Linked DNA regions of Homo sapiens. The protein of the gene in region 2 purifies or fractionates together with the protein of the main gene of each other region. This does not show direct contact. Each region holds a gene or a part of one and is shown on either strand. Other genes may lie near its edges.

The links.
Region 1: the proteins of UPK1A (region 2) and FZD1 purify together in Homo sapiens (affinity purification with mass spectrometry; one large-scale study listed by BioGRID and IntAct). This does not show direct contact.
Region 3: the proteins of UPK1A (region 2) and ABCA3 purify together in Homo sapiens (affinity purification with mass spectrometry; one large-scale study listed by BioGRID and IntAct). This does not show direct contact.
Region 4: the proteins of UPK1A (region 2) and SLC15A4 purify together in Homo sapiens (affinity purification with mass spectrometry; one large-scale study listed by BioGRID and IntAct). This does not show direct contact.
Region 5: the proteins of UPK1A (region 2) and IMPA2 purify together in Homo sapiens (affinity purification with mass spectrometry; one large-scale study listed by BioGRID and IntAct). This does not show direct contact.
Region 6: the proteins of UPK1A (region 2) and TMEM164 purify together in Homo sapiens (affinity purification with mass spectrometry; one large-scale study listed by BioGRID and IntAct). This does not show direct contact.
Region 7: the proteins of UPK1A (region 2) and ABCB10 purify together in Homo sapiens (affinity purification with mass spectrometry; one large-scale study listed by BioGRID and IntAct). This does not show direct contact.

What each region holds. Positions count from the first base shown.
Region 1 is NC_000007.14:91,268,825-91,271,826, reverse strand, and holds the end of FZD1 (frizzled-1), read right to left. Parts: 3' UTR 501-3,002; downstream 1-500. UniProt on the Homo sapiens protein: Receptor for Wnt proteins. Activated by WNT3A, WNT3, WNT1 and to a lesser extent WNT2, but apparently not by WNT4, WNT5A, WNT5B, WNT6, WNT7A or WNT7B. Contradictory results showing activation by WNT7B have been described for mouse.
Region 2 is NC_000019.10:35,669,517-35,673,016, reverse strand, and holds part of UPK1A (uroplakin-1a), read right to left. Parts: intron 1-3,500. UniProt on the Homo sapiens protein: Component of the asymmetric unit membrane (AUM); a highly specialized biomembrane elaborated by terminally differentiated urothelial cells.
Region 3 is NC_000016.10:2,295,729-2,299,228, forward strand, and holds part of ABCA3 (phospholipid-transporting ATPase ABCA3), read right to left. Parts: intron 2,813-3,500; coding exon 2,658-2,812; intron 2,194-2,657; coding exon 2,038-2,193; intron 1,812-2,037; coding exon 1,601-1,811; intron 13-1,600; coding exon 1-12. UniProt on the Homo sapiens protein: Catalyzes the ATP-dependent transport of phospholipids such as phosphatidylcholine and phosphoglycerol from the cytoplasm into the lumen side of lamellar bodies, in turn participates in the lamellar bodies biogenesis and homeostasis of pulmonary surfactant.
Region 4 is NC_000012.12:128,792,959-128,796,458, forward strand, and holds the end of SLC15A4 (solute carrier family 15 member 4), read right to left. Parts: exon of another isoform or gene 1,909-3,500; intron 1,399-1,908; coding exon 1,238-1,398; 3' UTR 236-1,237; downstream 1-235. UniProt on the Homo sapiens protein: Proton-coupled amino-acid transporter that mediates the transmembrane transport of L-histidine and some di- and tripeptides from inside the lysosome to the cytosol, and plays a key role in innate immune response.
Region 5 is NC_000018.10:12,005,507-12,009,006, reverse strand, and holds part of IMPA2 (inositol monophosphatase 2), read right to left. Parts: intron 670-3,500; exon of another isoform or gene 598-669; coding exon of another isoform or gene 416-597; intron 1-415. UniProt on the Homo sapiens protein: Phosphatase that can use myo-inositol monophosphates, myo-inositol 1,4-diphosphate, scyllo-inositol-1,4-diphosphate, glucose-1-phosphate, beta-glycerophosphate and 2'-AMP as substrates in vitro.
Region 6 is NC_000023.11:110,001,894-110,005,913, reverse strand, and holds the start of TMEM164 (transmembrane protein 164), read right to left. Parts: upstream 2,801-4,020; 5' UTR 2,736-2,800; intron 2,414-2,735; 5' UTR 2,140-2,413; coding exon 1,750-2,139; intron 1-1,749.
Region 7 is NC_000001.11:229,531,208-229,534,707, forward strand, and holds part of ABCB10 (ATP-binding cassette sub-family B member 10, mitochondrial), read right to left. Parts: intron 525-3,500; coding exon 429-524; intron 1-428.

The DNA.
Region 1 (3,002 bases), on a different chromosome or scaffold from region 2:
CATCTTTTAAAAAATGTGTGTGTAAAATGTACAAATCATTGCTATTTTAATACTTTGCTTTTAGAATTACTAGTCACACAAATATGCCATTCAACTAGTGTATTAATAATACCTCAAGAAAATGCAGTGTTATTTACATTTTATCATTCAAAAATACACCTCTTTAGAATACCAATGAAATAGTTTACTTAATCTCTTTTGGAAAATTGTATCTTATTCTTTCAAGCAATTTAAGGATCTGCTTGACTCATAAAACTGACGATGACCCACAGAATACTTATTATATGTTCATTGTGTACATGTACTTATAAATTGTATTTGAACTTATATATTATTAGAAAAATTTCTTTGAGAAACCCTTTTGTTTGACCTGTTATTAGGGTCCCAAACCAACCTATAAACAAAGATCCCCAGAGGAAGTATTATATTTGAATAGCAACTTGATTCTGTAATGGAGTAGAGACATTTGTCACCACAAAACATGATACAACTTAGAAAAATTACTCTAGAAATTGTGTTTTAATTTCCAGGTTCTAAGCAAGCTGTTTTGTCACTATAATTGTTAAAGTTTAACATATCCATTGTCAAAGGTATGACCAAAATGAATAAAAATATTTAAGCCCAAAAAGTTTAAGGGAACTCTGAGACATAATTGATGTTCAAGTACCATTTTTCAAATGTTAAGGGCTATTGGCATCTGCCAACATTCAAAACAAACATATATATCTTGAGAGTCATCAAAATAAACTTTACTTTTTTGGTACTTCCCTTGTAAGATCCCATTTTAAATGTAAGGACATTGAAATAAAAGCCTTCAATTTAAGATAGTATTGCAATTCCTTTTTAGTCATGTAACTAGATAATTCTTATATATATTCCATGTCTTATGTTGGTTCCTACACATTAATCCTGCAAGCCTTTGACATTAGTGTATTCTGCAAAGTATTCAATGACAATATCACCAGCGTCCACCTCTAGACATACGTACGACTACATTTTGCTTCTAATCTCTCAGGCCCCAGTTACACAGACTATTATAATAAGAAATGAATCAGAGATATCCAATGCCATGACACAGGTTTCAATTAATTGCATGTGCATTATATAAATTGTGGCCAATAGTCAATAGATGGATTAGAAAGCAAAAGCACACACAGTAAATATGCATCTTAAAAAAAATGTATACCAAGGTTGAAACATGCTATCAGGGACAGTGATCTGCGGCCACTCAAGTCCTGAAATGATTTATGATGTAGTCTATTATTTTTCTTAATTGGCCACCAACTCTTCATTGTAGTCTCCTTTCCTAGTTAAATGCTGGACATTAAGGTGATACAACTACACCAGAAGGCTTCAGTACTTACAGTGGAGACAAAAGGACCAGGCCAGTAAACTCAGGCTGACAAGTGACTACCATAGGACAAGCTGAAAAAATCCGGCCCGGCTCTTTTGCACGTGTTTGACACTGGCTGGCTCTGAAATTAAAAATATGACTCTCTGTCCCCACAAAGCTTAAGTGGAAAACTGCTTTTTTAGAAAGAAGAGCTTCAGAAGTCTTTCATACTACTTATATATTTACTCCAAAAGCTAAATTAAGTACACTGTGAGGGGGGAAATTGACCCCAATTTATAGCTGGTTTAAAAAAAAAATAGGCAAATCAAACCATCTGAAAATAGGGTTTGTCATGGAAACAGCAATGCTAATGGGACAGTATCCCAAGTAGCCTTATGGTTTTCCAGACACGTCCTATTTTGCCACCAGTATTAAAAGAAATAAAAGAATACACTGGTTTTCTATATGCATCATCATTTAGAATAAATTGTTTTCTAAGAATAAAGGCTGGTGGTGACTTAAAAATGTCTTCTAAAGCTATTTAACCACAGCATGTAAAACCTTTCTGCATCAAATTTATAGTTACATCATGTTAAGGACACCTCCAATAAGACTGCTTTAAAATATAGTTTTGGATAGCAATTAATGTCAAAAACATGTTTTTCCAGAAATTATCTAATTGAACTACTTAGTGAGGAGATATGTGTGAATTTGGCCTAAGAATACTATTTTTTTGTGTATGTCTATACAATAAACCCTCTATCTACTATATTATGTTAATGTAACAAAGAAAAAGGGAACACAAAATTGCATCTTGCTACTTAAAATCAAATGCTACATTTTTAGTAAGATCTAATTTTTTTGATTTTCCTTAAAATGAATAATGACTTATAAGACAATTGCATTGTAACAAGGAAAGTAACTCTATTGTATCAATGATCTTCATTTTAGTCCCTTGTCATTTTATCACAAAATGTTTTCATGGGAAAATTTAGTAAAGATATTTTTAACCTGTAAAGGTATTTGAGGTTTTCCATCTAGCATTTTCCATTTCTCATAACCATATTTCCATATTATGAAATGTAAGTAAACTTTACATCTCTATTTTATAAAAATTAATGCATATATACTTATGTGTATACTTATCTATATATACACATATATACACCCATGCATAAATTCTGACTAAGAGTAGACCAACTAGATAATTTATCTGGAGAAGGTTCCTTGAACGATTAAAAAAAGGGGTCTTCAGAAGCAAACAACAAAACAGCCTTACAAACCCAATTGCTGTTTAAAATGTTTATGAACACATAGCCAGTTAACCATTTATTGATTGCCTATTTAGGGTTTTGTAATATCCAAGATTATGGAAGAGATAAGACAATACCTCTAAAAAATATGAGAAAGGTGATGATTTAAAAATAAACCTCCATAATATAAAAAGTCATGTAAATTTATTCCCTGAAAGAAAAGAAAGCTTTAATATTAAAATTAGAGTTCTCTTTTAATCCTCTTTGAGTAAAGAAATAATTTGCAAACTTCTATTTTCTACTGTCATGAAAACAGATCTTTTCTTGGGACTTCACAAATGTCAATCACAACAATGCAAACAGAGTAATTCTTTGGAAAGACTGATCTGAGGGTTTAAGGGTAGACTTTTTTCATT
Region 2 (3,500 bases):
CAGGCGAGGCGTGGTGGCTCACGCCTATAATCCCAGCACTTTGGGAGGCCGAGGGGGCGATCACCTGAGTCAGGAGTTCGAGACCAGCCTGGCCAACATGGTGAAACCCCTTCTCTACTAAAAATACAAAAATTAGGGCTGGGCATTGGTGGCTCACACCTGTAATCCCAGCACTTTGGGAGGCTGAGATGGGAAGATTGCTTGAACCCTGGAGTTCAAGATCAGCCTGGGCAACACAGTGAGACCCCGTCGCTACAAAAAATAAAAATAAAAAAATTAGTTAAGCATAGTTACTACTAGTGGTAGTGTTAGTCCTAGCTATTTGGGAGGCTGAGGTTGGAGGATCGTTTGAGCCCAGTAGTTGGAGGCCTCAGCGAGCTATGATCGCACCACTGCATTCCTGCCTGGGCAACAGAGCAAAACCCTGTCTCTTAAAACAAAACAAACAAGGGTGGGTGCAGTGGCTTACGCCTGTAATCCCAACACTTTGGGAGGTTGAGACGGGTGGATCACCTGAGGTCAGGAGTTCAAGACCAGCCTGACCAATATGGTGAAACCCCATCTACTAAAAATGCAAAAATACAAAAATTAGCTGGGCATGGTGATGGGTGCCTGTAATCCCAGCTACTCAGGAGGATGAGATAGGAGAATAGCTTGAACCCAGGAGGCAGAGGTTGCAATGAGCCGAGATTGTGCCATTACACTCCAGCCTGGGCAACAGAGTGAGACCCTGTCTCTTAAAATAAAACAAACAACATAAAACGATGTTCTCAGATAATCAGAGACATTTGACACAGACTGGGTATTGGAAGATATAGAAGAACTTGATTGAATTTGGTGGGTTGTGCCAACGGCACAGAGGGCAGGAGAAAAAAAAAAGCTTGTCAGTTGATGTTTAATGCAAATTCTTTTCATGTCCTCACCTGGCACCTTCATCTATAAAGCAGCAGGAGGTTGCGTGTGGATGTGTGAACTCTGCTGCTGGGAGATGGATGACATTGCACAACCTCCTGACTGCTTTAAAACAATGTGCTTATCACTCAGAGAAATGTGTGCTCCAGTATTTACAGGCAAGTGACTTGGCATCTAGAATGTGCTTCAAAATACCCAGAAGAAAAAGTATGAGAGAAGGGGGATAGAGGAGACAATGTCGGGCAGTCTGCAGCTGATGTTGTTGAAATCAGGTGAGAGGTATGCAGGGCTCAAATACTGCGGACTCTAGTCTACTTTAGAAATTTCCTGTAAGAAATTTGGGGGCCGGGCACGGTGGCTCATGCCTGTAATCTCAGCACTTTGGGAAGCCGAGGTGGGCGGATCACGAGGTCAGGAGATCGAGACCATCCTGGCTAACACGGCGAAACCCCATCTCTACTAAAAATACAAAAAAAAAAATTAACCAGGCGTGGTGGCAGGTGCCTGTAGTCCCAGCTACTCGGGAGGCTGAGGCAGGAGAATGGCGTGAACCCGGGAGGCGGAGCTTGCAGTGAGCCGAGATCGCACCACTGCACTCCAGCCTGGGCAACTGAGCAAGACTCCGTCTCAAAAAAAAAAAAAAAAAGAAATTTGGGGAGAAAATGTCTTAGTTAATGACAAACTAATGGGGAAACAGACACAATTTTTTTTTTTTTTTGAGACAGAGTCTTGCTCTGTCGCCCAGGCTGGAGTGCAGTGGCGCGATCTCTGCTCACTGCAAGCTGCGCCTCCCGGGTTCACGCCATTCTCCTGCCTCAGCCTCCCGAGTAGCTGGGACTACAGGCGCCCGCCACCACGCCTGGTTAATTTTTTGTTTTTTAGTAAAGACGGGATTTCACCGTGTTAGCCAGGAAGGTCTCGATCTCCTGACCTTGTGATCCACCTGCCTCGGCCTCCCAAACTGCTGGGATTACAGGCGTGAGCCACCGAGCCCGGCCCAGACACAATTTTTAAAACTAGTTGGGTGACTTTTTAGGGCTTTGGTTAAATTGTTATGCCAGATAATTAAATACAGGATAAGAAAATAAGAGGGCAGGTGTGGTGGCTCATGCCTGTAATTCCAACACTTTGGGAGGCTGAGGTGGGAGGCTCACTTGAGGCCAGGAGTTGGAGACCAGCCTGGGCACCATAGTGAGACTCCATCTCTACAAAAAATACAAAAATTAGCTGCACATGGTGATGCACACTTGTAGTCCCAGCTCATTGGGAGGCTGAGGTGGGAGGATCATTTGAGATGAAGAGTTCGAGGTGGCAATGAGCTATGATTGTGCCACTGCACTCCAAACTGGGCAACAGAGTGAGACCCTGTCTAGAGAAACAAAGAAAGGAAGGAAGGAAGGAAGGGAGGGAGGGAGGGAGGGAGGGAGGGAAAGAAGGAAGGGAAGGAAGTCCATGGCTCCATCGTACCCAGGATAAAGCCAAAGTCCACAATACCTGCCTGTCTAGAAAAATGAAGGAAGGAAGGAGGGAGGTGGGGAGGGGAGAGGAGGGGAGGGGAGGGGAAAGGAGGGGAGGGGAGGGGAGAGGAGGCGAGGGGAGGGGAGGGGAGGGGAGGAGTCCATGGCTCCATCTTACTCAGGATAAAGCCAAAGTCCACAACACCTGCCTGTGTAGAAAAACGAAGGAAGGAAGGAAGGAGAGGGGAGGGGAGGGAAGGGGAGGGGAAGGGAGGGGAGGGGAGCAGGGGGTCTATGGGTCCATCTTACTCAGGATAAAGCCAAAGTCCACAACACCTGCCTTCCCTCCTGCTTCTTTCCCATCCCCATTCCTCACTGTTCTCCTCCCCATCTGTCTGCCTCATGTCCTCTCACCCCCCAACCTCCTCCTCACTCAGCTCCAGCTGCTTTGGACTCCTGGCCCGCTCTGGCCTCAGAGCCTTTGCCCTTGCTGCCACCTCCACCTGGAAGGCTCTTCCTCCAGTTACACACCTGCCTCGCTCCCAGTGCCTCTAGGTCTTTGCTTTCCCTGGCAGTGAGGTCTTCCCTCGCCCTCCTCGGCTCCTGACCTCCCCTCCTGTTCACTGTCTTCCTCCTCTGAGCACCACTTCCCTGGGTCAAGGGCTTTTATGTTTCGCTCAGCACAGAGCCCCAGTGCCCAGCGTAGGGCTCAGCATGTAGCTCCTGCTCATAAGCATTTGTTCATCAAATGAGTGGCTGCTTCTGGGAATCTGAAAAACCCTCTGCTGTCGAGGAAACACAGTGCTGTCTCTGTGTCATTGGGGCCGTGAATTGGAATCCCTGCTCTCCTGGTCACCTGGGAGAGGCTGTTAGCCTCTTTGAGCCTCAGTTTCCTCATCTGGTAAATGGGTTGAAAAGCACTAGCTGTGAAGGGCTTCTGGCAAGATTGAGGAAGCTCATTTTCTTTCCTTTTTTTTGAGATGGAGTCTCGCTTTGTCATCCAGGCTGGAATGCAGTGGTGTGATCTTGGCTCACTGCAACCTCTGCCTCCCGGGTTCTAGTGATTCTTCCGCCCCAGCCTCCTGAGTAGCGGGGATTACAGGTGCCTGCCACCATGCGTGGCTAATTTTT
Region 3 (3,500 bases), on a different chromosome or scaffold from region 2:
GATAGCCGGCACCTGGAATACAGGGCCACGTGTGAGATCTTTGGCTGATCCCCCAGGTCTCTTCATGCCCACCCCGGGGTCTCTAGGGCTCACACCAGGCAAGCTGGTGGGAAGGAGGCTAGAGAACCGGAGGTGGGCAGCTGAAGCAGAATGAATGTGTCTTGGAGCTCCCTGTGCTGTCCCAAGGGTGTCACCTCCCGCTCCTGCTGGGAAGAGCTGCTGGGGATCTAGGGTGCTGAGCACTGTCAGGGGCACCTGCTGGAAGGTGGGGTCTCCCCCCAGCTATACAAGCACCAGGGAAGGATATCATCAGCAGCGACGGACCACGTGTGAGGGCTTCTGTCTTGTGGGGTTAACACTGATGGTTATGGTGTGGTTCTAGGAAGGGACTGTCAGCAGGAGCAGGAGCAAGAGCTACCGGCTGCAAGACCGCACTGCACGGCACTATCAGAGATGCATCTCACCTCTTTCCCAACGTCACCGTGCAGGAGATGGAATTCCATGTCCTTTTTTTTTTTTTTGAGACAAGTCTCACTCTGTCACCCAGGCTGGAGTGCAGCTGCACAATCTTGGCTCACTGTAACTTCTCCCTCCTTGGTTCAAGTACTTATTCTCCTGCCTCAGCCTCCCCAAGTAGCTGGGATTACAGGCATGCACCACCATACCTGGTTAAGTTTTTGTATTTTAGTAGAGACAGAGTTTTACCATGTTGGCCAGGCTGGTCTTGAACTCCTGACCTCAAGTGATCTGCCTGCCTTGGCCTCCCAAAGTGCTGGGATTATAGGCGGTGAGCCACCACGCCTGGCCCCATGTCCTCTTTAGAGACAAGGATGCCAGGCCCAGGAAGAACAATGGCTCTGCCAACTGGGCAGTGGGGCAGGAAGTGGCTAGTGAAACTCTCAGAGGCCGTGGTGGATGGTTCCTCATCTCCTAACGCCTGCTGTCCTCCCTCTTGGTAACAAAACCCTGGTATCTTGGCTGAGCATGTGGCTGCCCAGGACAAAGGCCATCCCCTCCAGCCTACTGCTGACCACACTGGGTTGCCACTCAGTCACTAGGGGGCAGAAGTGGGACGTGAACTTGGGGGGTGTCCTGAGGGGAGGAGGGCTCCTATGTCTTTGCTCCACCCCGTTGGAATGTGGGGGACGCTGGCACACCCAGATCGTGCTGGACCAGGAGGTGACCTTGAAAGGGAAGCCGTAGTTGCACAGTACAGTCAGAGGTCTGGGCCCAGATCCTGTCAGCCCCTGCTGGCCCTGGCCATGCTGTGAGCTGCTCTCACGTGGGAGCTGCCATGTTGGTGCGTGTGTTGGCCTCTCCAAGGGCAGTGCTGCTCCTAGTGGCACTAGGCTTGGCCTCTGTTCTTCTGGTCATGGCTGAACCACATCCTAACCAAATTGAGACTTTCAGCTCCATTTCCTGCCTCTTCCCTCTCACAAGCCCCCCTGCCTGGTTGGGCTCTCCACCCAGAGGCAACAGACAGGAAGTCTAGAAAAGGCCACCCCTGCCTGATCTGAGGGCCCTTCATGAAGGTAGCAGCCATTCCCTCAGCACGGCAGCCAGGACACCGACCCTGTCGCGGGCTGGCCCCACCGCTCACCGTATTTCTGCTTGAGGAACAGCGAGGACCCGCAGCACTGCAGCTCCCCCTTGGCCATGATGGCGATGCGGTCTCCCAGCAGGTCAGCCTCGTCCATGAAGTGGGTGGTCAGCACGATGGTGCGGTCACTTTTCTGCCGCTGAAGAAGATCCCAGATGGCCCTCCTGGAGATGGCGTCCATGCCCGAGGTGGGCTCGTCCAGTATCAGCACCTGGAGGGAGAGACACAGTCTCGCGACGCTGGTAGAGCCACACCCCGGGCCCAGGCTGGCCTTGCGGTAGGCCCCATCGAGGGGTTCGCGGAGCCGGCTTGAGTCCTCCAAGGATGGTGATGGCCTTGTCTGGGGTGTCAAGGGCCAAGGTGCCCGGGCCATGGCGGAAGGGCCATCCCAGGTCGAGCAGGAGGGGAACCCACTGCCTCCAGTCCCACCGCCACACCTTGGAGCCTGCGATGAGGGCGATGCCGATGGAGAGCTTGCGCCTCATGCCCCCGCTCAGGAAGCGGCTCCGTGAGTTCCACTTGTCCTCCAGGCCGATGATGTGCAGCATCTGCTTGACTTCTTCAGGGCACTTCTGACGTGACAGGCCCTTCAGCTGCAACGACAGGGGACGCAGGGAGATGCAGGGCTCCTGGCGGGAGGCCGACCCTGGCCAGCGAGGTTCTGGTGAGAGGAACCTCTCCTTGACGTAGCTGGGGAGATGCAGGGCTCCTGGCGGGAGGCCGACCACGGCCAGCAAGGTTCTGGTGAGAGGAACCTCTCCTTGACGTAGCTGGGGAGATGCAGGGCTCCTGGCGGGAGGCCGACCACGGCCAGCGAGTTTCTGGTAAGAGGAACCTCTCCTTGACGTAGCTGGGGAGATGCAGGGCTCCTGGCGGGAGGCCGACCCTGGCCAGCGAGGTTCTGGTGAGAGGAACCTCTCCTTGACGTAGCTGGACTCAGAACCCTGGCTCCTGCCCTCCTGGCTCCCTTCCTCCAGTTTAGCTCCTCGGAAGACTGCCCCAGAAACTCGAGCACATCAGTGGAAACACCCCTGCACACCCCTGGCCCCCAACTCACCTGGGCGTAGAAATAAAGGTGCTCTGCGACTGTCAAGTTGTCAAACAGGATGTCGTGCTGCGGGCACAGGCCCAGGCTCTTCCGGATCTGAACCATGTCCTGGGAAATTTCATACCCGCTGATGTATGCCCGTCCACTGGTGGGGGGAAAGAGACCTGGGGCCCAGCAGGAGACCCCACATTCAGCATGAAGATCCTGCTCGTCAGCACCCGCGGTAATGACCCCCCACCCCCTCTCTGTCTCCCCTAATTTCCTCTGAGGACCCTGCCCATGAGAGGGCACGGAACCCCACTCCCACTGGGGTGGGCTTTGGCTGGGCCAGTGGGAAAAAGAAGCGGCATGGAAACAGCCCTGCCACTGGGACGCACAGCTGGTCAGGGAGGAGAAACCCACGACACACACACACAGAGTCACCACAATCAGCCCCCGCCCCGGGTCCCAGCCTGTGCCACTGCCAGACACTTTGGTGCTTGGGGAAGACAGAGTGAAATGCCAGTGGCCGGTGTGGTGCACAGGGGAGAGCTCTCAGAGAGGGGTTTGGTGACAGAATTAGCATGGGGTTGAGCTGCTCCTGCGTGGTGGCCTCTGTTTTCACTGACCCTGTCAAGCTTGGGTATTCACAGACAGAGGCGGTGAGGAGGGCAGGGGTCCCTGGGGGTCCCCCTGCATTCATGGACAGAGGCGGTGAGGAGGGCAGGGGTCCCTGGGGGTCCCCCTGCATTCACGGACAGAGGCGGTGAGGAGGGCAGGGGTCCCTGGGGGTCCCCCTGCATTCACGGACAGAGGCGGTGAGGAGGGCAGGGGTCCCTGGGGGTCCCCCGGCATGTCCCGGACAGAGGCGGT
Region 4 (3,500 bases), on a different chromosome or scaffold from region 2:
AGGGTTTTTTGGTTTGTTTTTTGTCTTCTCCAAATGCTGAAACTACCCTTCCATGCAGAGGAGGCTGCAGAATCAGGAGACGCGCCGGAGCATCCGAGGGCTGTGCAGGAGCGCACTTCCCCACCCTCCCCTCAGTTCCCGACTCGGGAAGCTCTGCGCCTTCTACACGACAGGGGAGGAATCCACACGCCACACCAGCAGCGACTGAGGACAAACCACGCAAAGAACCGGCTCATGGATTTCGCATTTGAGATGCTTTTTATAATAAAGTTATGCCAAAAATACAGCAACAAATACAGAAAAAGTATTAACAAACGGAGAAGCCCCAGATACACGTACAGTAACAATACAAAAATGTGACTGGTCAAACAGCTCAAGTTCACATTTAACACTTTCAATTATTTTTAATTACACTATTTCTGTTCAAAAGAATGTTTTCCTTACATACAACCATGATCAGTCTTTAGTCTCAATCGTACCAAAATAAAGCTATATATAAGCACTCTGACTAGGTAAGGTGTGAAGTACCCCGTGAGTTGCTCTGTGGCTTGAGATGGGACACATGGTCTCAAATGACTCTTATGCATGCCTTGCCTTAAGAAAGAAAAGTAATGTTGATGGTTTAAAAAGTAAGTACTTTTTGAAGCAGCAGATGAAATGTGTTTACTACCAGCCTAAATCAAAGAACATGGCAAGAGCAAGATTGTTCTCAGGAAGGAAACCATAAATATGGCATTTATGTAAAATCCTTGCAGCATCTGACCATGCTTTTATCTTTAAAAAAAAAAAAATCCTCACTTTCTTAAATATAAGTAACAGTTTATTAATTTTTTTTTTACAGTGAGATATGGCTATGGGAAGCAGGTGATACTATTTGTTTAAGAAACTGGGATGCCAACTAACACGTGGAGTTCCCCAAGACTTTGCAATCTCCATTTGTGAGTTTCTGTAAAAAAGGGAACCCAGCTAGAGGATTCACAGAGACCTTGAATGACAAGCGACATACTCGAAATCTGCAGCTCTCCTCCCGGAGGGCCCAGCGTGCCAGGAGACACGCTGCAGTAAGGCACTTACCAAGCTCCTTTGGATAGAGGGAAAGAAGAAATCAATCCAGGCAACATGCAAGTTTCAGTGAAGTCAGACATTTTATGGGAATTTAAAGTCTTGCCTGTTCTCAGTGCACCCCAGTCAGTTACTGACATGTCAGCCTCAGAAACCGCACATGGCCTCAGGAAGGTCAGGCCCTCCTGCTGGTGGGCACGCCATTGGCTCTTGATCGCTGATGGTCTCGATGATGGTCATATTTCACAGAAATAATGAGGAAAAGCAGGAGGGTAGCTCCTTGAATAGCAGCCAGAAGAAAAAAGTAATAGTTCAAATAGCAGCCGTTAATATTACCTGGAGAAAACAAAAGGAAAGCGGCAGGTAAGCTGCGCTGCTACAGGTATTTTTTCAAGACTTTACTATTTAATCTGGTTCCCACTAAGGTTTAACTGGAGTCATAAAAAAAGTAACAAATGTTGTCTCTGTAGTCCAAAATGCACAAGCATCTTGCTTTCAAAACCACTGAAGAAGCTCCCTGAAGTCAGATACATCGCCACCGGGGGCTCTGGAGGTGGGCTGTCTGCAGCCCCCCACCTGCCCCTAGCAGCCCATCCCTCTCTTCTGTAAGGTAAAAGGAGGAGGTTCCCTGAGGAAACTAGAAAAGGTAGCTCCCCAGTACTCAGGAAAATCCCTGCGTGGCCTGCAGACACACATGCGGTGGTGAAGGGGACAGTGTCGACGGAGAGTGTGCCTAAGGCCGCACGACAAGGCTGCAAATCAGGAGCAAGGGGAAACCTGCCAACCCAGCCTCCTGTGACTGCTAATCCCCCCACACCAGAACAGCTGGGCAAAGTAAAAAATTACCTTCCTGTGTTCTTGCCACCAGAAACAAGTGTTAGCCGGTCTGGTGTTATTTCCTTCCTGCCTTTTCTGAGGCAGTGTTCCTCTCCTCAACTACTTCAGGGGAACTTCCTCCATTTATAGTTATGATTGGCCTGGAACTGCATTGTTGAGGAAGGCAGATGCGAAGATAACAAAAGAGCGCCTGACTATCTCTTTATCGAATCCTGAGGTGAGCGTCTTTGTAACTTGGCTATGGAACCTGTGCACTTTTTAGCATCACAGATTGCACTATGACACAGCCTGAACATCGTGAATTCTGGATTCACTGCATGGGTCACTGACACACCCAACACACCAGGGCCGACAGCTGGGCAATGTATCAAAGGAAGAGATGAGCTGGTTTCTGAATGTGTCTTAAACATGTTCAGGTTTTAGCATCCTCAAACTGACACAAGCAGATACCTCTGCATACTTTAATACAAAGAGTTAGCATACACTGAATACCCAACCGAGTCCCGGGCACTATGGAGGCACTTTACACGCAACGTCTGCATCCCAAGCAGGCTGGACAGCACAGAGGATAAGATCATGGGCCATGCAGCTCAAGCTATAAGGCTTGAATCCGGCCTCTGAGACCTCTGTGCTCAGTTTCCTCATCTGTAAAATGGGGAAAGCGCCGAGGAGCAGCATTTCAGAAAGGCACTCAAGAGGGAGTCTGGACGCGGTGAGGGTGCTAGCAACACGTGCCACGGTCATGATCCCCCTTTCACAGAGGTCTGGAACTGTCCACTCTGCAAACTGGCAGTCTCTCCGCCAGAGAACAGAGTTCAGCCAGCACCGGCTAACATCACCACTCAATGTGCAGACGTGGGAACGACGTGTGAGCAGAAAACGGCAGGACTTTTAGCTCGTCATGACTGGTCATCCAGGCCAAGCCGAGTGTCGCCCTGTGCTCTCCACCACGGCTGCTCCTGCCACCATGGCGTCCCTCTGTCTCCGTACCATGTACATCACCTGCCACCAGCTGGAAAGCACTGCTGCACGTTTCTGCACGAGGTCGCAGGTGCGTGTGGCCGGCAACATCACGAGGGGAGCGAGTGCTCTGGAATCAAGTTGCTCCATTTTCTGCTCCTCTTCAAAAACACTTTCTCATTTGTTTATTTTAAAAAGTGAGACTTCCTTTCTTCTGAAGACCTTTTTAAAGCTGGGTTATTCTGGCACTTCCTTTTTCTATCTGAACATATACTGCATGTTCAACAGTGCATTTATCAAATAAACACAATATAATACACGTCTGGGCCAGGCGCAGTGGCTTATGACTGTAATCCCAGCACTTTGGGAGGCCAAGGTGGGTGATCAACTGAGGTCAGGAATTCAGAATCAGCCTGGCCAACACGATGAAACCCCGTCTCTACTAAAAATACAAATAATTAGCCAGGCGTGGTGGCTGGCGCCTGTAATCTCAGCTGCTTGGGAGGCTGAGGCCAGAGAATTGTCACTTGAACCCGGGAGGTGAAAGGCTGCAGTGAGCCAAGATGGTACCACTGCACTCCAGCCCGGGCAACAAACGTGAAACTCCATCTCAAAAAAAAAAAAAAAAAAAAAAAAAAAAA
Region 5 (3,500 bases), on a different chromosome or scaffold from region 2:
ATGTGCCCTGTGCAGGCTCCACTCCTCCATGTGGCCTGCTTGACACATTCCTGCTAGAGGGACATGGGCGGCCTGCTCCTGCACTCTGCAGCAGGCCCTGGGCTGGCCCCTCCTTTGTAATGAGTCCCTCTGCAAACAAGGCCCCCTACAATCCTCACTTGAGTGTGCGTCTGTCCTGCTAGGAACCTGACCGAGACAATGTTCTCTCAAGATTCACCTGCACAGAAGGGAACTCCTGGTTTTCTCTACTTGCCTCTACCTCCACGAATGGCAACTCCCAGCACCCCCTGCTCAGGCCAAAAACAAGGGAAAGCACTCTCGCCCCATGCACTGTCACCCTTCCTCCTGCACCCCACCCACACGCAGGCCCACACACACAGGGAAGATGCTGTGGTCAGGTGTATTCGCAGCCCACCTTCTGCAGGCTGGTCCCTGTGGAGCTGGCCGCTGTTTACACCTTCCAAAGGCATTCTCAGGATCAAAGAAAAGACTAGATCTAAAGCATTCAGGGCAGTGCTTTTGACACTCTTGGACTGTCCCAAGTTCACTAAGGGTGAGGCCTTGGGCAGGCGCTAAGCAAACATCTGTTCTGTGCATGACTATGTGGCCTTGCCGAGAGGTTTTCTATCCAGTTCCTGTGCCGGGTTCACATGTGTACTAGAGAAAAAGGAGACCTGCAGAGAGTAAGAAAAAGAAAATAAGTGAAAAACAAGCAAGGCGCGGTGGCTCACGCCTGTAATCCCAGCACTGTGGGAGGCCAAGGCGGGCAGATCACCTGAGGTCAGGAGTTCGAGATCAGCCTGGCCAGCATGGTGAAACCCTGTCTCTACTAAAAATACAAAAATTAGCTGGGCGTGGTGGTGGGCGCCTGTACTCCCAGCTACTTGAGAGACTGAGAGAGGAGAATTGCTTGAACCCAGGAGGTGGAGGTTGCAGTGAGCCGGAGGTTGCAGTGATCCTAACGTTGCAGTGAGCTGAGATCACACCGCTGCACTCCAGCCTGGGAGAGTGAGACTCCATCTCAAAAAGAAAAAAAAAGAAAAAGAAATAAAAATACAAAAATTAGCTGGGGGTGGTGGCGCACGCCTATAATCCCAGCTGCTTGGGAGTCTGAGGCAGGAGAATCGCTTGAACCCAGGACGGGAGGGATGCAGTGAGCCGAGATCATGCCATTGCACTCCAGCCGGGGTGACAAGAGTGAGATTCCATCTCAAAAAAAAGAAAAGAAAGAAAAGAAAAAGAAAAGAAAGAAGGAAGGGAAGGAAGGAAGGAGAGAGAGAGAAATAAAGAAGGGAAGGAGGGAAGAAAGGAAAGAAAGGAAAGAAAGGAAAGAAAGAAAGAAAGAAAGAAAGAAAGAAAGAAAGAAAGAAAGAAAGAAGAAAGAAAAAGAAAGAAAGAAAGAGAAAGAAAGAAAGAAAAGAAAAGAAAGAAAAGAAGGAAAGAAAGAAAGAAGCGTCCCATGTTCTGGTGTTTGGTGTATTATCCACTGTGGTCATCAGCCTCCTGGAAGCCACTTTCCCCGCACGAACCATGTGGTCTAAGATTTGGCATCAATGAACTTTTGGATAAGGCTGGAGACTTGAGTGTGAATGGAAAGACTGAAATGAAAACCTCTGTGACCGCTCAGCGCCTTACAGTAGCCAGTCACCGCATATGGCTGCTTACATTTGAATTAAATAAAGACTTCAGTTCTTCAGTCTCATGAGCCACCTTTCAAGTGCTTGGCAGTCACGTGGGTGAGCGGCTACCACTGTGGACACAGCAGATGTGGGCCACCCCTGCAGCAACAGACAGAGCCGCTGGCAGTGCTGTCCTCCCACCGAGATGCTGAGAGGCAACAGCAGGCATCTCATGGTATTCGATGTCACTTTTTTTTGGAGACAGAGTCTCGCCCTGTCGCCCAGGCTGGAGTGCAATGGCGCGATCTCAGCTCACTGCAACCTCTGCCTCCCGGGTTCAAGCAATTCTCCTGCCTCAGCCTCATGAGTAGCTGGGATTACAGGCGTGCGCCACACGCCTGGCTAATTTTTTTTATCTTTAGTAGAGATGGGGTTTCACCATGCTGGCCGGGCTGGTCTTGAACTCCTGATCTCGTGATACGCCCACCTCAGGCTCCCAAAGTGCTGGGATTGCAGGCGTGAGCCACCACGCCTGGCCCGATGTCACTTTTCTATGCACGGGAGCTGCCATACACACTGTAACCACCCTGGTCCCCATCCACTCTGGGACCATCCTTCCACTGCTGGGTTATGAAGTTCATGCCTGGGATGCAGAGTCATCCAGCCCCTCCATTTTGCTGATAAATTATCTAGAAATACAACCCTGGGATACGACAAGTGCACGCATACATCATCTCAGGCTGTGCGACCTCCTCCCCGGCCCCCTGGAGAAACCCACGAATAAGCAGGGGCTTCTGAGCCAAGAAGACCAGGTCAAGTCAAGCCAGGAGCACTAAGCAAGACACCCAAGGAATCATCAGCTGTTCCTGGAGAGCCTGGGCAGGCTCAGTCTGCCCCTGGAGCTTTCAGCCTAGCCAGGCAAGGCAGATGAGATGCAGTGAACCCAGGCTTCTGGTTCTTCATCTACACTGCACGCCTTGCTCCTTGCAGGAACTGCCTCTCCACTCTCAGTTGTCCACATGCTTCTAGGTCAGGTGATGCACAGGCCCACCAGCCAGAGCCCCTGCTCAGGAACTGGTGCTCCCCAAACAGATCTAGGAGGAAAAATGGTGGGTAGAAGCCACAATGGCAGCCGGGGCAGGGGGTGGAGAGGCTGCCTCCTGACAACAGCAGCCTGCAGGAGACACACAGGTGATGATTCCACTTAGGGCGTGATCATAAGTGCTGTCAGCACTGCCAGTTTTCCTAGAAACTTCAGGCACTAAATCTGTTTTTCCATGTCTTCTGTAGCTATGTGACTTTCCTCTTCTGTAATGGCTTGCAATGACGTTTTTAAAGAAAACGCTCCACACCCTGAAAACACACATACAAGGAGCAACTACGAAAGCTTAAACTGGGCACAAGGTTGACAAAGCAGCGAACAGATATGACTCAGGTCCAGAGGGACTAGAAATGACTCAGGCACAAAGGTAAGTTTCTAAGAAACTGAGGAGGAATGTGCAATTCTTCTCCTTTTTAAACCTGACTTCAAGTAGGAAACTGAAGCGGTGGAAAGAAAACTGCCAGTGAGCCCTGAAGGAGGAGGCAGTGTGGGTCTGCAGGCACTGACACTCCACACCCAGGACAACTCACGCTGCAGCACCCAGACCACCCACGCGGCATGCCCACGTGCCTCCCAGGACACTCGGGAGCAGGAGCTCTGTCTGTTCATTCGCCAGATGCGTGGGACACCCTTTAGGGAAGTCACCAAGCAGCTTGTTTTCCCAGCAGCAACTATTAATATAAGTTAATTTGTTAACAAAGCTTCTGCTGTGTGTAACCTTTATTATTTATCTATTTGTTTTTTAGGTTTCATTTAGTGTAACCCAGCAAGTACTTTTA
Region 6 (4,020 bases), on a different chromosome or scaffold from region 2:
TTGTCGACCTTCTAGATATGTGATTGCCAGAGGCCTCAAGACCACTTTGTAGAAGATGCACCCTTTGACCCTCACCACCTGCCATCCTAAAAAAGCACTCCTGTCCCGACAGCCTCACACAGCATCGGCTGAGATGCGTTGTTTCCTATCATTAACAAAAAGCCCATTCATAAAAAAAGAAAGAAAGAAGACTGGCTCAAATTTACACAGAAGGTCTAGCTGGGACAGCCCTGGACTTCCTGTGAATGGCATCACTTCCCAAGAAGCCCTCTCTTAAAAAATGCTGCCCACTCCAGCCCCGATGCTTACAGCCACCCAATCAAAAACAGCCACTTTATTCCAAAGTTATCCATACCTTCTTACCATATCTGCAAGAAGGGAAGGGGCTGGGGTCATTCACCACATCCAGAAGCCTGCAATCAAATGAGTTCCTAGGAACACAGTGCAAGCAAGTATCCAAGCCATGGGTAGACAGTGTGGTGCTCATCTGCCTGAGTCTTCCCACAGGACTGCCCCACCACCCACTGCCACCCTCACTTTGGGGTTGACAGCTTGCAACCTCAAGGTGGATGAGTTTGCTTTCTAACCCAGGCACTAATTCATCTTCTGGCTGCAAGCAAATGACCTGCCATTCCTAAACCCCTCCAGGCCTGTAAAATGGAGATAATAATCTCAACCTCCTGCCCCAAGCTAGGCTGTCACAAGTCTCCAAAGAATAACCTTCTACAAACATAAAGGCAGTAAAGATGCTAATGACAGGTTTCAAAACTGCCCCTGAATAAAACACACCCGGTTTTCCACAGCCTGAAATCTAAAAAAGACTGATTGCTCTCCCAGTCTCCTCTTCCTCCTCCTCCATGATTTTATAGCTTTAGAACATCTCTCCACACAGGCTGAATACAGACAGTCTCACTCTTGGTCCTCACCCAGATTATTTTTATGTATCTGGCAACTTGCCTTTTCAATCCCATTTGTTTTCCTTAGCACCGCTAATGGGTGGAAGTCGATGAGGTAAAGAAATCAGCTTCCTAAGCACCCTTGGACTATGACCATAGGAGACAGAATGACAGTAATAGGATGGAGAGGTTTGCAAAAAAAGAAATACCCTCTCACCATAGTGATCACCAGCCCAAAGTACACATGTCAGCCTGGGGACCTGCTTCAGAACTCATTTAGTAGGAGCTTGGTGCTGCTCCAATGCCTCAAAATGCAAAGGCAGACCTCACTCTAAGAGCATACACTCCCAAATGAAAGAGTCATTAAGAGAAACCTGTAAAAGTATTTCCCCAAAGTACCACAGTGTAGATGAGAAAGTTTATGCGACCACCTCCAGGAAAGAGTGTCACCAGGCCCCTGGGAAATTAACTACCACAGAAGGCAAGGGAGCTGGGTCATGGTCCACTGATGTGATTCAGAAAGGGCACCTGGCTGGGGCTGGAATTCCTGCTTGTGAAAGCCCAGGGCACGGCAGGGTTGGGCTGGGCTGGAAGGGAGGGGCAGCCAGGGTGAGTGCCAGTCGTTCCTAGGGTTCAGGCACAAGGTTCCTCACCTCCACTGTGGGGCTGACGCACTGTGCAAAGGTGAAAGAAAGCCAAACCTGAAATCGGCACAAAGGCAGCCACTCGTTGGAAAATCATTTTTAAAGGTCCCCCTGCCCGCCGGGATGAGGTGCTGTACACTATGGAGTGTCCTGAGCACATAAATGACTCTTATCACTTAGGATGCCCAGGAAAAAGTCAACAGACTCACATGCATCATGGTGACCAGGTGACAGGGGTTGAGCAGGTAGATGACGGTCTTGGTGGCGAACTTAAAGCCCACCTCCACCCCGAAGGTCAGGCACAGGGCTACTAAGAGCAGATTCTTGCTCAGGCTCTCCTTGCCTTCCTCTGGCCGCTGGGTCACCTGCTCTGGCTGGCTGCCAGGGCTACCCCTACCGTCCTCCTTCGTCTGCCTCAGGATGTGCCGCAGGGCCACCAGGATCTCCAACAGAGCCAGGGTCAGGACCACCACACTTTCCAGCAGCCGCTGCTGCCAAGAGAGGAAGGCAGCACAGTCGGGGCCCCCATTGCCTGCAAAACTGGGGTCCACGCCCCCATAGAGCCAGTCCAGGAGACTCTGGTAGCTATACCGGGACATGATGCAGTGGTTCCCCTTGACCACAGTACAGGAAGCAAGAGTGAGATGGAACACAAGCCCAGAGGGTTGCCCGGGTGGTGGACCATGTAAGGCGGGCACACCCCCACAACCCCCCTCCAGACACCAGGGCACCGAGAGTAGGGGAGGGGAAGCTACACGCAAGGCCCGGGGTAAAGTGCTGGCTCTAACTTGTCCCCACGGCTGTCTGGGGGAGCCCCCCGCGCTTCTCCAGTGGCCACCAACGAGGCAGGGTTGAAAGGAGCCGTTGGCCAATCTAAAAGGAAGGAGAGGAAAAAAAAAAAAAAGAGGTCTCAAAGAGGCAATTGCACCGGGAATTAGGAAGCGGGAGGGGTAACTAGCGAGGGAAGAAAACGGGAACGGGGCAGTGGCGAAGCAAGCAGGGGTCAGGGGAAGCCGGAGGCCGAAAGGGTCAGGGCGGGGGCCAAGGAGACCCGGCAGTGCTGCGGCAGCGAACCGGGAGCCAAAAGGGGTCAGAGCTAGGGGACACGCGGAGGCAAGGAGAGGAGCTAGCGGGGCCGAGCAGGCGGGGAGGGCGACGGGGATGGCAGGGACGCCGGACTCCTCGTCTCACGCACTCGCCACAGAGGGATCTCTTACTCCTGCAACCGCGTGGCCGTCTCTGCCCCCAGCTAGCAACTTCGCCGCCGACGGGCCCCTCCAGCCAATTTAGAGCCGTCCTTGTCCAGCCTCCCGCCCCCGGGTACACCCCCGAACCCCCAGCTCCACCCTCCGGCCCTAGACGCCCGCCCTCCGGGCAGCACCACCCCCAGCCCGCGGCCCGCCCGGGACCTGCCCCCCTCGCGCAGGCAGCGGAGGGAGGAAGCCAGAGGGAAGGCGGGAGGCCGGGCCAGCCGGGGGCTGGACTAAAGCCGGCCCCTGGACTAAAGCCGGCCCCCCTCCCTCCTCCCCGGCGCCGCAACCTCCCGCGCCTCCCGCCCAGCCCCGGGGACCGGCCGCCGCGCCCCTCGGGGCTTCACTCACCGGCAGCTCGGCCCGCGGCCCCGGATCGGGCTACTGCTCCGCTCCCGCGCTCTCCGCGCCGGGCGCTCGGTTCCCCTGGCGGCCGCCGCCGCGGCGCACGGCTCCTCCTCCCCGTCTTCCTCCCCCTGCAGCAGCCGCGCTCGCTTCCTCCTTCTTCCCCTCCCTCTCTCCTCCCCCTCCCCGCTGCCACCGCCACTGCCTCCCTCCTCCCGTCCAGTTCAGCTCTCGCCCCACCACACGCCCTCGGGCCACGACTACTCCTCCTCGCCTCCTTCCCTTTTCTGCCTCTGGCACTCCCCTCACCCGTCCACCATTCACACCTCCCACCCTCCGCGGCTTCGGCTCTCCCTCCTCCTCCTCCCTCCTCCTCCCTCCTCCGGCTCAGGCTCCGCCTCCTTCCGCCTCCTCCCTGGCCTGCCTCGTCTTCTGCACTCGGAGCCTGCACGCGTGCACAGCCACCCTCCTTCACAACCGTGTACAGAATTCGCCCCCTCGGTGAAGCCCTGTTGACTGGCTCCGCCTCCCGCGACCTGGTTCTCCAGGGCACTTCTTTCTATACTGCACACATAGTAGGCACTTAGCTGGCCCGCACTAACTTCTTGTGGGGGAATAAGCCTTTCTAGTAATGAGCAGCTTGGCTTCGGGGTGTGTGCTGGGTATGGCCGGCTCCTCTTCGCGATTCCTCCTTTCTGCCACGACTCATGCAAGGCCAGAAAGGCATCTTCTCTCCCCTTTCTAGCCACAGCCCCACTCCACACTTCAGTGCCTAGGACAGGAGCTTCATTTCCCTGCTCCTCCCCCTCCTGCTCTGATCCACTATTTTCTCTCTACCTCTTGCCACACAGACCACCCCTGCCACACCCTCTCCCTCTCCCACTT
Region 7 (3,500 bases), on a different chromosome or scaffold from region 2:
CAAGAAACTTAGATATTTTCTTATGTCTGATTCCTCCTCCCTTATTCCCACCCTAGCCCTCCACAGAGATGTCAGAATCACTAGGGAAGATCAATTTGGTAAACTAGCTGGGACACAGCCCTGGGCCACACTGACTTCCATCCTGCCCTTTGCGGTAACACCCAGATGGAGGGAGGGGAACAGAGGGCAGCACACTATGTGGCCAGCCCATGCATCCAGGGACACCCTGGCCCACAACAGTGCCCCAGCAGCTGTCCCACCCCCTCTCATAGAAAACCTGACCACCTCCTCACCCGGCCCGCCATGCAGCAGGAGCCACATCCTTACTGTGGCTCATCCCTCACTCCCTTGCAGACAGGGGAAGAGCTGGTCTCATTGTTCAAAGCCACATTTGTTAATCCTAGCAAAGAAACAATTTTCAGACCCACCGTTAAAAGGCAGCTTGGGCTCTCTCTCCAGGAGCTCCCAGAGGCGCCCCCCTGCACCCAGTCCTTTCATCAGCTCCGAGTAGAAAGAGCTCAGACCTGAGGATGAGAAGCAGAATCCACACACATGTCCATCACTGGCACTGGCACTGGCCACCACTCCTCTGAGAGGAGTGACAATGATTGCTTTTAATATAAAATCTGTTATTAATATTTTCAAAAAACAACTTGAGGCAGCTTCCTGGGAACTGATACTCAGAATTGCTTGTCTCATACTCTAGTTTTCCTTTGGCTTCTCCTCCTCCAGTTTCATAGTTTTTTTTTTTTTTTTTTTTTTTGAGACAGATCATCACTCTGTCACCCAGGCTGGAGTGCACTGGCACAATCTCAGCTCACTGCAATCTCCATCTCCCCAGTTCAAGTGATTCTCCTGCCTTAGCCTCCCGAGTAGCTGGGATTACAGGCGCAAGCCACCAGGCCTGGCTAATTTTTTTATTTTTAGTAGAGATGGGGTTTCGCATGTTGGCAAGGCTGCTCTCAAACTCCTGACCTTAGGTGATCCACCCGCCTCAGCCTCCCAAAGTGTGGGATTATAGGCATGGGCCACTGCACCTGGCCACATTTCACTGATTTCTAATAAGGACTTAATGTTTGATCAGGGATTGAAAAACATATATAGTCATACTCATCAACCACTGGATTAAAATCATAATGCCGCAGAGGAAATCTACCTAGTTAAAAGCATTGTAATTTAACTGAAATGTAATGCTATCTCATAATTTAAAAAAATATAAAATACTTCAATGTTGATTTTAAAGACAAATCCACAAAATAATACCTCACCTTCAGCCACTCAATAAATACAACTTTGATACGCTACTCACATACTCCCATATACTTCAAGTAATCTCTAGATTACTTATAATACCTCATACAATGTAATGCTATGTTTAAAAAAAAAAAAAGGGCCAGGCAAAATGGTTCATGGCTGTAATCTCAACACTTTGGGAGGCCAAGGTGGGAGGATTGCTAGAGCCCAGGAGTTCAACATCAGCCTGGGCAACATAGAGAGAACCCTGTTTCTACAAAAAATAACTGTAAGGCCAGGCCTGGTAGCATGTGCCTATATTCCTAATTACTTGGGAGGCTGAGGCAGGAGGATTGCTTGAGTCCAAGAGGTTAAGGCTGCAATGAGGTATTACTGCACCACTGCACTCTGGCAGCACTCAGAGCAACAGAGCGAGACCCTGTCTCAAAACAAAAAACAACAACAACAAAACTTTCACAGTAGTAAAAACTGAAATAAATTTGGTTAATGTTAAACATTCCAGCAATCTCTTTATTTTTATTTTTTTGTGGAGACAGGGTCTCACTATGTTCCCTAGACTGGTCTTAAACTCCTGGGCTCAAGCAATCCTCCTGCCTTGGCCTCCCAAAGTGCTGGAATTACAAGTGTGTGTCACCGTCCCTGGTCTCTAGCCATCCCTTTTTAAAGTCAGCTTTGAACCATTATTATTATTTTTTTTTGAGACGGAGTCTTGCTCTGCTGTGGTGTAGTATCTATCACTGAACCTCTGCCTCCCAGGTTCAAGCAATTCTCCCTGCCTCAGCCTCCCGAGTAGCTGGGATTACAGGTGCCCCCCACCATGCCTGGCTAATCTTTGTATTTTTAGTAGAGATGGGGTTTCACCATGTTGGCCAGGCTGGTCTCCAACTCCCAACCTCAAGTGATGTACCCACCTCAGCCTCCCAAAGTGCTGGGATTATAGGTGTAAGCCACCATGCCTAGCCTGAACCATTTAACAACTTAAACCCCAAATGCAATGGTCTACATCAAATGTGAGGACATACATTTGTAACATTTTCCCTCAGTGAGGATGCTGAAAAAATACAATTCAAATATTCTACAGTATGAATATTTATGCAAGATACAATGGACTAAAATTTTTAGGCTGAATTAAAAATGCATTTGGCAAAAATAGACCCCCATAAACAGTCAACTGATTTTTGACACAGAAGCAAACGCAATACAATGGAGATGCAACGGCAATATACATATTATCTTTTTAACAAATGGTTCTAGAACAACTGAATATCCACATGCAAAGAAGGAATCTAGACACAGACCTTACACCTTTCCCAAAAACTAATGTAGAGTGAATTACAGACCTAATGTAAAACACAAAACAATAAACTCCTAGAAGGCAACCTAGGAGCAAGTGTAGATGACCTTGAATTTGGTGATGACTTTTTAGATACAATACCAAAGGTACAATCCATGAAAGAAAGAAGCTGGACTTCATTAAAATTAAAAATGTATGCTTTGCAAAAGACAATGTGAAAAGAAGAGGACCAGCCACAAACTGGAAGAAAATATCTGTAAAAGACCTATCCAATAAAGGATTGCTACCCAAAATATACGAAGAACTCTTAAAACTCAACAATACGGAAACATGAAGACTTACTTAAAAATGGTCAAAAGTCCTGAACAGACAACTCACCAGAGAAAATATACAGAGAGCAAATAAGCATATGAACAGACGCTCAACATCATATGTCATCAGGGAAATGCCAACTAAAACAACAATGAAATACCATGCATCTATCAGAATGGCTAAAAGCTAGAACACTGACGCCACTAAATGCTGGGGTGGATGTGGAGCAACAAGAACTCTCATTCCTTGCTAGTGGGGATGCAAATGGGACACACATTTTGGAAGGCAGTTTGGGAGTTTCTTACAAAACTAAAATTTTTTTTGTAAGAAAAAAATTCATTCGGTCACCATAGAGATGTCAAAAATTGCCAATGCTGGCCGGGTGCGGTGGCTCACACCTGTAATCCCAGCACTTTGGGAGGCCAAGGTGGGCAGATCACTTGAGGCCAGGAGTTCAAGACCAGCCTGGCCAACAGGGTGAAACCCTGTCTCTACTAAAAAAAAAAATACAAAAATTAGGCCAGGCGTGGATGGCTCATGCCTGTAATCCCAGGACTTTGGGAGGCCGAGGCAGGTGGATCACCTGAGGTCAGGAGTTCAAGATCAGCCTGGCCAACATGGTGAAACCCCGTCTCTACTA